Linked DNA regions of Homo sapiens: regions 2 and 3 are each reported to be linked to region 1. Evidence: microRNA targets listed by miRTarBase, many of them from high-throughput screens and not tested one by one. Region 1 holds a microRNA gene; each other region holds the end of a gene's coding sequence.

Region 1 (4,161 bases):
TTCACCCTAAACACCACCGGCGAGGCGCCGGCTTTGACCTTCCGTAGCTTCCCTAGCAAGGCGTTTCTCTGGGCGCGCTCTGTGGCCACCCTCACACTCGGTGCCCGGAAATCGAGCCCTTTGCCCACGGCTACTTCACGGGACCACCCTCCCGGGTTAGGCATAGGCCCTCCCGGATCTTCCGCGGTGTAAGGAGAAGGCCAGCGCCCCTGTGATAGGCCCAGAGCCCCCACTCCACAAGCCAGCCCATCCCCCACGGAGACCCAAACCGTCCACACACACCTTGCCAGCTGTTTGGGCCCCACGCCGCCCCAAAACACGCCTCCAGCTGGCCCCTTGGGACCTCCCTTCTCTAGTCCGTATTTTGACCTGGCCCGTGGCAGATTCGCCACTCCCCCCTACCCCAAGCAGCCTGGGCCTCGATGGGCCGTTGTCGGGGCCCGGAGATTGAAGTGGTGTTGGATCCTGCTGCTGGCCGCGCTGGGGTAGAAGGGTCGCCGGTGTGTGGGCAGAGCGGCCCCCGCGTCTCACCTTTAATTTTCTTTCCTTAGGCGGTAACCAGCGTGAGCTCGCCCGCCAGAAGAATATGAAAAAGCAGAGCGACTCGGTTAAGGGAAAGCGCCGAGATGACGGGCTTTCTGCTGCCGCCCGCAAGCAGAGGTAGCCCCAGGGAGGGGAGGGAAAGGGACGGTGGAGACCTGGGTTAGACCAAGGGTTATAGAAGGAAAGAGAGCTACCTCAGGGCTTGAATGTGGACTAGTCGTGAGGAGCAGAGTGCATTGCTTCCTCTAGGGTTTTATTTCCTCCCCACCCTCCAAATTGTTAGCTCACAGCCTTACAGGAAAGGACGGGGGCGGGCGCCTGCCCTCAGTCTGATTTCTGAGCGTCCCTGGGTCTGACCTTAAGGGCAAGGGCAGGGAGCTTCACATTTCAAATACAGTTGTGGTTACGGCAGCCCAGTACTTTTGGCCCTCCTTGCTGTTCGGTTCTCCTCCCTTCTCCCAACCTCCTCACTGGTGTTGCTGGGTGTGGTCCTCAATACAGAATAGAGACCCTTGGGCCTGTGTCACCAGACTTCTGACCCCTTGGGCAACAGCCAGATGGAGACTGGTCGCCTTTTGAGCCTCAGCTCTCTTCCTCTTGTTCTCCTAGGGTGGGAGTACAGCAGCCAAACGCTGAACTTAGTCCCATCCACTTCCATCTTATCCTTTGTGCCCTTCATCCCCCTGCATCTTGTCCTTTTTGCCCTCTGGTACCTCCCAGTGCCCCATCATCTCTACCCCCAGGGACTCGGAGATCATGCAGCAGAAGCAGAAAAAGGCAAACGAGAAGAAGGAGGAACCCAAGTAGCTTTGTGGCTTCGTGTCCAACCCTCTTGCCCTTCGCCTGTGTGCCTGGAGCCAGTCCCACCACGCTCGCGTTTCCTCCTGTAGTGCTCACAGGTCCCAGCACCGATGGCATTCCCTTTGCCCTGAGTCTGCAGCGGGTCCCTTTTGTGCTTCCTTCCCCTCAGGTAGCCTCTCTCCCCCTGGGCCACTCCCGGGGGTGAGGGGGTTACCCCTTCCCAGTGTTTTTTATTCCTGTGGGGCTCACCCCAAAGTATTAAAAGTAGCTTTGTAATTCCTTGAGCGCCTGGTTTGACTGGGGACTTGGGGGGATGGGGTTGGAAGAATGACTGCCCTTTCCCACCAAAAAAGGGAGAACTCTTTAGATTCAGATTGTGGGTATGTAGACTTAATAAGTGAAACATCACAGAAGAAGCCTTTATTATACAATGACAACCAAACAAGTACTCCGGATATGCAGTAGAGGAATCCTCTAAGAACCATAGAGACTTCTTTTCTGTGATTTTTGTTCCCCACCCTTGAACACCATCTCTAGGATGGAGTTGGCCTAAGAGTGAATGCTGCAAGATCTGTGTTTATGCCTCTTTTCCTCATTCTTCCTCAGTTTGTTCGTCTGCTTGAAAGTTGGCCAAAAAATCCTGCTGCTCACCGACTTCCCGTGGTCAGCTGCTGTCAAGCGTTCACTTTCTCTTCTGTCATTCCTCATGGAATGAGGGTGGTTTTGTCTTCCCGCTTCCCTTGACCTCAAAATCAGGATTAAAACCTGGGGTAGCCTCTGTGCTCCTTTCTTCTATGCCCTGGTTTGTTCTGTGGTTCTGGGCTTCTTATATCCGTGTGCCCAGGGCTGAACTCCTTATTTTCCTTTCTCCAAGGGCAGAGCCGAGTCTTCAGTCCCTGTTGGTCTTTCCCCACCCCCACTTCCAGCCCAAGAGCCAGGAAAGGGCTGGTGCCACACTGTCTGCTGGGATCAGCGGTGGTTCTTTGAGCTGCTGATTTGGGTGTTAGGCTCTTGAGCTGGGATGCAGATGTAACAGTAGCTCCAGTGAGTCAGACACTCTGCCCAGCACATTAGACTGTGTTTGACCACTTCTTCCAGTTCATAGTATTGACTTCAGCCCAAACGGAGATAACTCCCTGTGTGTCCTTGAGGTATTGAGCTGGGCTGGACAGCTCCCCTTGAGCCAACTCTAGGAGTACAATGTCAGGGGAACCCCAGTTTGTGAAAAGGACTTAGACTGGAGGATATTTGTTATCTGGGGATATGATGCGGTGGCGGCGGCGCCTCAAGATAAGGGGCTGGGGTTTCTGGGTGGGGGGCCAACAGAGTGGTGCCAGTAACAGCCCCAGATAGAGGAGTACGCAGGCCCAGCATGAGGCAACCTTGACCCAGAAGGTGGCCCAGCTACCCTTGATGAAGGTCTTTTCCAGTTCTGCTCCCTCATAGCTGTGTAACCAAAGGCTCTGGTTAGAGAATATGAAGGGCCTTAGCTTTTAGACCTGTTCTACCTCCTCACCAAATATAATGGCAGACCCATGTGTGTCTGGAATGGCCTTGAATTGCTCTTTCCTTAAAATAGCTAGCTCTTCAGGAGAGTATCTAAGGCCCACTCCATCTTACCTGAACCAGTTGGTAAGGGTAACCATGACATAGAGTGAGGCAAGGAAGAAGACGAAGTGGAAGGCAGAATAGTTGTAGGAAAGATGCTGGACTTGGACTGGAGGAGCTGGAGGGGTTTCTTGGTCAGCTGGCCTCGCAGCCCCACCCCTTTGCCCTGGAGAGAGGAAATGGCTGCTGGGAGCAGAGCTGCTGAAACACCTCTTCCCCTCTCCCCCAACTACCTTTGTTAAGGCTCTTGAGGGTTCTTATGGCACTCCACAGAGATCTACCACTTCTTATGGTTCCTCACTTGGCACTCACCTTTGTCTGCCTCCACTGTTTCAGGGCAGCAGAAACACAGTGAGGGCTTCTGCAAAACAGAACGCAGGTTTTGGAATGGTCTTAAAAGATGTGAGGGTGTTAATCTAGGAAACTTCCCCCGTGAAAAGATTGGTCTAGTATTAAAAAGTGGAGGCACACCTGGGTTCAAATTCTAGCTCCAGCATATAAGTGGCTGTGCAGACTTTGGTAAGATGTTTAATCTTTTGTGCCTCGATTTCTCCATTTGTAAAATGGAGCAAATACCTACCTCACAGGGTTGTTGTGAGGGTTAAATTAAATGAGATTATGTAAAAGTATCTAGCACAGTTGCCTAGCACATTGTGGGTACTCAATAAAAGGTAACAGCAGCTATAATCTGAGCATTCTGGGTAGAGGTTGGTAGGATGTGTGTGTGTCTTTGTGTGGGGGAGGGAGGGTGTTGGGGATATGGAGCTCTTTATCCTCACCTGAAACTCATAGCTGTAAACCTTGACAATCCACAGGGGTCCAAATACCTCAGCCAGGTAGGAGGCCTCATTGCTGAGAAAGAATAGAGTTCTTAAGCTGGTTTAGTTAAATAGGGATTATCTGGGGGCATTTACTACCAATTGGTCCATACTGGTAATCCTCAAAAGGGTACCATACTCCCTGTGCCCTTTTCCACCAAAGATTTAGAATTCTATTCATGTGAGAGCCCTAAGGTCTTTGGACATATTTTAAATTCTCAAGTCATTCCCCCCACCCCCTTCATCTCATACAGATCATCTGACAAAGTACTATTCTTAGAATTTGTCCCTGTTTGTGGGGAGCTTTTCTCACTCTAGTCTTGCTCTAAACTTTAAATAATGGTCCCAGACATTGTCCTGACCATCCTTCCCTGTCTTGGGCACCCTCCTT
Region 2 (4,161 bases), not on the chromosome of region 1:
TTTTTGACATCAGGCTTCTGGCTTCTCAGGGCACCTGGGAAACTGATCTGTGCATTGCCTCTCCCTTCGCAGTGTGTGCTCATGCTGTCGCAGCTGCTGAGCTGTTTTTAAGGACTTCCACTTTGCAACCCAATCATCCTGGGGCCTTAGTTGCACTATCACTGACTTAGCCTGCCACAGGGATTTTTTTTTTTCTTCTAGGTTTTGAAATAAGACAAGATACTGGTATCAATAGAGTGCACCAAACATATGGAGACAAGTGGCTCCTGTTAATCTGTTTAACATATTTTTGTTTTAGGACAAGGATGTTGCTCGACTCCAAGATTTCCAGGAGCTGGAACTGGTTCTGATGATAAGTGAAAATAATTTTCTGTTCAGAAATGCTGCATCCACACTGACTGAAAGGCCTTGCTATAACAGGAGAGCTTCAAAACTGACTTACTAATGCAGCAGGGACTTTTATCACTGAGTATTATGACAGTGTGCATCACCTCTGGGCCAAGGACAAGCCATTGATCTAAATGCCTCAGATGCCCGGGAGGGCCTCTGGTGCCACTGCATAGTATATACTAACATCATTCTGCCAAGGTAGGAAGCCCCTGACCCCCAAGCAGTGGTGCCACTCTTCCAAGCCTCTTGGTGCACAGTAAACCTATTGCTTGAAGCTTTGAACAGCTGAGAAGTGGTCTGGAGAGGCAGAAGCTGAAGGTTCTATATCCAGTGTGTTTTATGTCCAGAATGTAAGAGAGTTGTCTAAGCAGCAGCTGAGAGAGAGCGGAGCCTATTTCTAGCCACTCCTGTTGACAGTGCACCTGAAGGGCTGGGATGCGTTTTTCTTGGTGTTGCATGCTCACAACTCTGCTGACATTGGGAACTTATGAGAGAGGAAGACTCGGGAAAGCACAGATACTGGACAGATGGATTCTGGTGTGGGGAAAGCACAGATACTGGACAGATGGATTCTAGTGTGACTTGTGACTGTGAGGTTTCCTATAACATATTTATAAATGTTACTCAGGTTAAAAGTATTTAAGAATACAGTTAACTAATTGTAAATATGCTGTTAACCAAAAGAGCTTTCCCTCCCTCACTTTTTCCTTTGTAAACACTCATGACTGCTTCTCTGTCTCGAGTCATCTCTGCATTAACTCCCCTTCGTGGTCACTAGAGGGCTCTCTGATGCCTTCTAAAAGAACAACTGCTTTTTTACAATGCCCCCCACCCCCACCCCGCCCATAGAGACAGGGTCTCACTATGTGGCCCAGGCTGGTCTCAAACTTCTGGCCTTAAGTGATGCTCCTGTCCTTGGCCTCCCAAAGTGCTGGGATTACAGGTGTGAGCCACTGCACCCAGCCCACTTTTTTTTTACTCTGAAGTGATTCCAGTCATATGTGTGTGTAACTGCATCCTATGAGAAGAGCACAAATATTGCTGTTCCATGTTCTCCACTTTCATTTTCCACTACAAATGAAAAGCAATTTTTGAGACTGAATCTGTTGCTATTTTAAAGGTTATTGTGGGAAACTGAGCTAAAGGAGTTAGCATCTTTATTTTTGTATCAAAAATAAAGGTTATTTTGAAATTATTAGGATTTTTACACAATTCTGAAATCTGTTGCTTTTGTAAACAAATTGTTTGATCTTAGTGATCCCCCTACTACTACCACCAATTCACTTCACAAAGTCAGTTATGAGTCTACCAGACTTTGTTCTGAAAAATAGAAACAAAACACCTGATTAAGCTCTTGAGTATGGCATAGGAATTTTTTAGAAGAATGCATTCAAGGATTCTTTTCCTTTCCTTCAGTGTCATTAATGTTAAAAGAGCAGCCACTGTTTTGTTGAAACAAACAGCTTAACTTCAGAAATAAGAACTAGCACACTTAGACAAACAGGAGAGCAGGGGTTTGAAGCCAGCTGTCGAAGAGCATCCCTGCTGTCTTAAGAAGCTTTTTCCCCATAGTGCCTATAGTTTCCAAAGAAACTCAACTTCCTAACTGTGTTAACTTAATTTTATTAGAACACTACAGTTGAGTGAGAACGTGCAGAAGATGTCAACAGAAGAGAATGTTGTGCTAAGATAATGGCCTCCTGCTGCTGCCTAAATGCTGAAATGAGGTTGAGATGTTTTTCAAGGCTAACTTCATGGACTCACTCTGTTTAGTGACTTAATTGTATCCCACCAATTACTGCTGGTGACTTACTCACCCTTGTACAGTGTTTGCATAGCAGAGTGAAGGTTACTTATTACCCTCTTTCTCTCAAGTGCTTTAAAGAAGAAACCTCCCTGGTGTTTCTTTTCTTTTTTTTTTTGAGACGGAGTCTTGCTTTGTTGCCCAGGCTGAAGTGCAGTGGCATAATCTCAGCTCACTGAAACCTCTGCCTCCCGGGTTCAAACGATTCTCCTGCCTCAGCCTCCCAAGTAGCTGGGATTACAAGCATGTGCCACCATGCCCAGCTAATTTCTGTATTTTAGTAGAGACAAGGTTTCACCATGTTGGCCAGGCTGGTCTCGAACTCCTGGCCTCAAGTGATCCACCTGCCTTGGCCTCCCAAAGTGCTCCGATTACAGGTGTGAGCCACCCGGCCCAGCCCCTCCCTTGTGTTTCAACCAATCGGAAGTGAATTTAACTAGATGTAGTAACCTTTTTTTTCTTTACTTCTAAAACAGTTACAGTTTACTAATAAAGTTAAGTCTGGTTCTGTCCTAGAGGAAATAAATTCACTATTAATTCATGTCTTAAGTTACTTGGGTTAAAACACTTTCAGCCACCCAGATTAATTAAAGTGGAGCAGTGGAGCCCCTGGCTGGGAGATGGCCTCCAGAGGAGCAGCTGCAGGGCATGTTCTGGGCTTAGCGACAGAGGCAAGCAAGGGACTGGTGTCTCTGGTGAGAGGTGGGTTTGATGTATCTCTGTCCTATGCTGGTCTCTCTTCTCCTTTATAAAATCCTCTGTGGTCAACTGACTACTGCGTATCGCAGTGGAATAAGACTGCACAGTTGCTGGTAGGTGAGTTTAAAGTCTTAATCTATGCATTCAGAGAAATATTTTTATATGCTTTGTGTAATTTATAACAAGGATTTTTTTTTTAGCTTTGTTAACTGTGAATTCACCCCTCCTCCTCCACTGCATATTTAAAGCATGTGTTCACACTGTGTGTAAACATTCACTGAAGATTTTTTCTTTGTGCATTGCTGACTGTTCAAACATAACAAGTATTATTAAAATTAAATATTAACTGACCGATCCTATATGCCTTCATTTTGGCTTCCTAAACAGCACTACAGTTCTAATCATAGGGGGTTCAAATTGTTGGACAGTCCCAGAGACCAGAAGCTCTGCAGGAAAATTAGAAGGGCCCTCTCTCCACCTGAGCCTCCTCCACATCCCGTTCATACCCTGTCAGTAGCACCTGGGGACGGATATTTTGTGCGGCGTCTTTCCTTCCAGTTCACGCAGTCGGCTTCATTTCCCTGGAGTAGCTGAGCCAGTTAGATGGAGGTCATCCCCTATTAACCACATTTTTTGATTATCCTATTTACTTTACCCAACTGAGCCTCTCCTTTGAGTTGTCAGCACCTGTCAGGGCCTCAATGAGCTCAGAAGCAAAGTCCCAAGACAGGAGAGGAAACACAGCCTTACACTTCCAGATCTTTAGCTGATACTGATGCTGAATGAGTCTGCTTTTCTGTTGGTTCAGGCCAGCTAGCACCTCACAAAGCAGACGTCAAGCCAAATTGGCCTAATAAATCAGAGAGCATAGCAGAGACCTTTTCTTAGCACCAAGGAGAGGCAGGATAATTTGGGCATTTGTGCTTTCATACTTGCTTTATCACAAGGATGGAAGTCATCTTCCATATACTCATAAACATCCTGGGCAGAAACAGCCTGCCAAAAAAATGTGATTAACCTTTAACAAATGGTCCTGCAGCACAGGCTGACCCAGAGCATATAGAAAAAACCAGTCAAAGGATCCACCTCCATCCATATCTACTGCAAGCCATTTAGGGTTGGGGAGAAAACCACCATCACCCACAGCCACTCACATCATACCAAGACAAAGATAGAGGAAATGAGAGCGAGACAGAGGAGACCAGAACACTTAGGAACAAGGAGAAGAGATCCATTCCAAATAGAAGGCCGGTGCCAGCCAGGTGGAC
Region 3 (4,161 bases), not on the chromosome of region 1:
CCGGTTCAAGCAATTCTCCTGCCTCAGCTTCCCGAGTAGCTGGGAATACAGGTGCATGCCACCACACTCGGGTAATTTTTGTATTTTTCATCGAGATGGGGTTTTGTCATGTTGGCCAGGCTGGCCTCAGGTGATCTGCCCACCTCAGCCTCCCAAAGTGCTGGTATTACAGGCGTGAGCACCACACTGGCCAAGCATTTCTCTTATCAGACATTCACTTTATGATCAAGCTTAACTTTTTCTCAGTTGAAAGTTACTTAATTCCAGCCCCATATGGATGTGTATACAAATTATACTCAAACTTTGATTAGAATGCAAAGATTTTATATCCATGTATCCTTTTGACAACTTGTTTTCAACAATGGCAAATAAATAAAAGAATGCAGAAGATTTCACAGTCTGCGGAAGGCTGTGACTTAAAGGGAAAATTGTTCTAATTTATTGTTCGCTTTCAGACAATGGAAGAATACATGAACAAGCCTACATTTTAACTGGAAATCTACTTGAAGACTCCAGCACTACATGTTATGAAGCTGTAAATAAGCAACGCCTCCCATCCGGTTTTTTGATGGAGCCTCAGGCACCATGCCAAAAATAATTTAAAGGGATTCTTTGTTAACTAACAAAGTTAAAGTTGTTTAACATATTTATAATTACTATGTGTCTGTATTATTAAAAAAAATTATGTGTCTGTGTTATACTGTATAGGTACTTGTAGCTCTAAATGTTTAAAGTAACTACCACCTAACCCAACAGACAATATTTGTAATGTATTAACTCCATGTTATGTTTTTAAGCTGGTTTAGATACATTAGCTGCAATTTTTTTTGCATTTGACACAATATTGTAATAATCCATGATTTTGAATGTAAAGTATATATGATGTCATTAATACTTTTTCTAAATGTTTAGTTTTCTAAATTGTATAATAATTCAAAATTATGTTAATAGTGCAGAGTTTATATGTAATGCTAGACATTTTTCATACACTTAATAGTACTGTAACTGCAATTCACATACAAAATGTCTGATTTTAATGTGCTGAATTCATTTATTTTTTTTAGAATTGGGATTATGAAAATAACCAAAGAGTATAGAACTTAATAAGTGTTTTTGATGCCTTAGAAGCTGCTATCTTGACTGAGGTTTTAATTTATCTTTTAATTGAATATAAGGGACATTCCAATAAGGTTTTCTATGAACTATATATTTATTAAGGTTTATAGAGACCTAGAGATACAGCATCTATGACTTCCTTTATTATTCTAAAATAGTATGATAAGAATTAATAGCAATAATAATTATTGCTACTATTTTTTAAAATTCACGTTCCAAGCACTCTTAGATGCTGGAAATTTCATTTCAAATATGTTTTAATGTATCTCTAATGCATTTGAAGACTTATTACATGGCTTACTTAGAGCATTTAAGATTATCACAGCCTATATGGTAGATTCCTTTCCTTCTTTTTTCTTTTCTTACCCTTTCCTCCCCAAAGAAAAGATTTGCTGCTGACCATTATTACTGTAAGTATATCACATTTGTGCTTCCTGGAATGAAAATTCTGTATAACCAGGTCCTAACAGTGATCAGACATATTACAGGGAAATAGCTTGTAGGCCGGGAGTGGTGGCTTACACCTGTAATCCCAGCACTTTGGGAGGCCGAGGCAGGTGGATCACTTGAGGTCAGGAGTTCGAGAGCAGCCTGGCCAATATGATGAAACCCCATCTCTACTAAAAATACAAAAATTAGGCCGGGTACAGTGGCTCATGCCTATAATTCCAGCACTTTGGGAGGCAGAGGTGGGCGGATCACAAGGTCAAGAGATCAAGACCATCCTCGCCAACAAGGTGAAACCCCACCTCTATTAAAAATACAAAAATTAGCCGGGAGTGGTGGTGCGTGCCTGTAGTCCCAGCTACTTGGGAGGCTGAGGCAGGAGAATCGCTTGAACCTGGGAGGCAGAAGTTGCAGTGAGCTGAGATTGTGCCACTGCACTCCAGCCTGGGCGACAGAGCGAGACTTCGTCTCAAACAAACAAAAAAATTAGCCGGGCATGGTGGCAGGTGCCTGTAATCCCAGCTACTCAGGGGGCTGAGGCAGGGGAATGGCTTGAACCCAGGAGGCAGAGGTTGCAGTGAGCCAAGGTCATACCAGTGCACTCCAGGCGGGTGACAGAGCAAGACTGCGTCTCAAGAAAAAAAAAAAAAAAAAGAAAAAGTAAAAGCTTGTAGTATTCTGTCTTGCTGCCTGCTATTTGATGTTTTACCTGTGCATTTTCAATGTTAGCTTTGAGGTCTGGTATCATTCATATTAGAGTGGTTTGGGACCTCCAGTGATTTCCTAGAAGAGTGTGTTTCCTGTTGGATTCTTTAGGAGATCCCATCTGGTAGATTTTTAGAGAACTCGATGGAAAAATGTTCTCTTTAGTTCATCTCAGCAGACATATTTAGGGAAAACAGCAAAGCAAGCAGGAGAACAAAGGGAAAAATTCACCAATTCCTCAATATAACCATTGTTCAAAGGAAATAACTCAGATTAGCATATAAAATAATCATTAGGCTTTTACTATCCAATATTTCTTCAGGTTACCATGTAATTACAATTATGGCATCAGCTTGAAGTTTATCATGTATGATTGACCACTGTGTTTACTTTAGCTAACCTTCAGTTTTGTGGTTTAACTTTTTAATGTGTTAGAATTTTTTCTTTCTTTTTTTCTTTCTTTCTTTCTTTTCTTTCTTTCTTTCTTTTCCTTCCTTTCTTCCTTCCTTCTTCTCTCTCTCTCCTTCCCTCCCTTCCTTCCTTCCCTTCCTCCCTCCCTCCTTTCTTTCTTTCTTTTTCTCTTTTCTTTTCTTTTCTTTCTTTTCTTTCCTCGCTTCTTGTCACCCAGGCCAGAGTGCAATGGTGTGATCTCAGGTCACTGCAGCCTCCGTCTCCTGGGTTCAAACGATTCTCCTGCCTCAGCCTCCCGAGTAGCTGGGATTATAGGCATGCGCCACCACGCCTGGCTAATTTTGTATTTTTGGTAGAGTTGGGATTTCTCCATGTTGGTCAGGCTGGTCTTGAACGCCGACCTCAGGTGATCCGCCCGCCTTGGCCTTCCAAAGTGCTGGAATTACAGGCATGAGCCGCTGCACCCGGCCAAATTCTTTATTTTTCAATACAATTTTGTAAAGATGGACCTCATGTAAATCCATCATAGTTTTTCCGGTTCTTTTGAAATTTGTCACCATATTTGGATAAAGGTATCTCTTGAACCTCATTCAAATATACTACACATGTTCTGGATAATTCCATATTAGACACTTTAGTTATGGACAGGGCTTCTCAGACTTCAATCAGTGTCACACATAGAAAGTAAATATATCTCTTCTGGGCAAGGTGGCTCACGCCTGTAATCCCAGCACTTTGGGAGGTCAAGGCGGCAGATCACCTGAGGTCAGGAGTTCGAGACCAGCCTGGCCAACATGGTGAAACCCTGTCTCTACTAAAAATTCAAAAATTAGCCAAGTGTGGTGGCACATGCTTGTAGTGCCAGCTACTCAGGAGGCTGAGGCAGGAGAATCGCTTGAACCCGGGAGGCAGAGGTTGCAGTGAGCTGAGATCACGCCACTGTACTCCAGCCCGGGTGACAGAGTGAGACCCTGTCTCAAAAAAAAAAAAAAAAAAATGAAAGTAAGTAAACATATCTATATGGCACAGTGGGGTAAATTTGAGGGATTTTAGGGACATCTTCCATGGGCCTAGGCTAAAATAGTCATTGTGTTTTCTTTATATTATATAATTACTATAAAACTACCAAGAGAAAGACAGTAAATGTTAAATTTCTATAAAACTTCCAAAATAAAATGTTTTAACATGTTTTAATGAGGAACTTGGTGTGTTTTCATGAATACACTTTTTTTTAAGTCAGATTTTATGTTTGAAATTGCTACTCATAATTCCTGGTGATGTCTCTTTAATATGACCTCTTTATTTTCTTGGTACCTACCAACAAGAAGCAACTTCAAAAGTAAGTGGTAGCAAATGGGAGAAGAGTATTTATTGCTTTTGCTCCTACTGACTTTTCTCATCATTCACCTACATTTTGGTAATCTGATCTCTTTACACGTAATTAATGATGTGATCATTTTTTAAATCTAGTGACAGCTCCTT

Evidence for each region. Region 1 holds the annotated microRNA hsa-miR-1282 (UCGUUUGCCUUUUUCUGCUU, at 1,309-1,328, opposite strand). A microRNA usually pairs through its seed, bases 2 to 8, with sites in the 3' UTR of a target mRNA and lowers its output. Matches are read on the target gene's strand: a 7mer-m8 pairs with bases 2 to 8, a 7mer-A1 pairs with bases 2 to 7 and ends in A, and an 8mer does both.
Region 2: the mRNA of ANKRD40 is a reported target of hsa-miR-1282. Seed matches in the 3' UTR shown: 7mer-A1 at 2,393-2,399.
Region 3: miRTarBase lists AP1S3 as a target of hsa-miR-1282. Seed matches in the 3' UTR shown: 7mer-A1 at 2,950-2,956.

Annotation. Positions count from the first base shown.
Region 1 is chr15:43,792,424-43,796,584 of GRCh38, forward strand. It overlaps MIR1282 (microRNA 1282), which reads right to left and starts at 1,336; the gene lies at 1,236-1,336. SERF2 (small EDRK-rich factor 2) reads left to right here. Exons shown (of 3, transcript NM_001018108.4): 2 at 552-660; 3 at 1,287-3,656. The coding sequence ends at 1,350. SERINC4 (serine incorporator 4) reads right to left here. Exons shown (of 12, transcript NM_001258031.2): 9 at 3,732-3,804; 10 at 3,265-3,313; 11 at 2,965-3,118; 12 at 1,739-2,790. The coding sequence ends at 2,577. SERF2-C15ORF63 (SERF2-C15orf63 readthrough) reads left to right here. Exons shown (of 6, transcript NR_037673.1): 2 at 552-660. RefSeq lists enhancers at 1-591, 380-709, 1,045-1,898, 2,620-3,121, 3,122-3,621.
Region 2 is chr17:50,692,281-50,696,441 of GRCh38, reverse strand. It overlaps ANKRD40 (ankyrin repeat domain 40), which reads left to right. Exons shown (of 5, transcript NM_052855.4): 5 at 299-3,244. The coding sequence ends at 445. Among named protein-coding and RNA genes, the nearest start is that of ANKRD40, 14 kb to the left of the region's middle.
Region 3 is chr2:223,755,045-223,759,205 of GRCh38, reverse strand. AP1S3 (adaptor related protein complex 1 subunit sigma 3) reads left to right here. Exons shown (of 5, transcript NM_001039569.2): 5 at 456-3,880. The coding sequence ends at 491. Among named protein-coding and RNA genes, the nearest start is that of AP1S3, 80 kb to the left of the region's middle.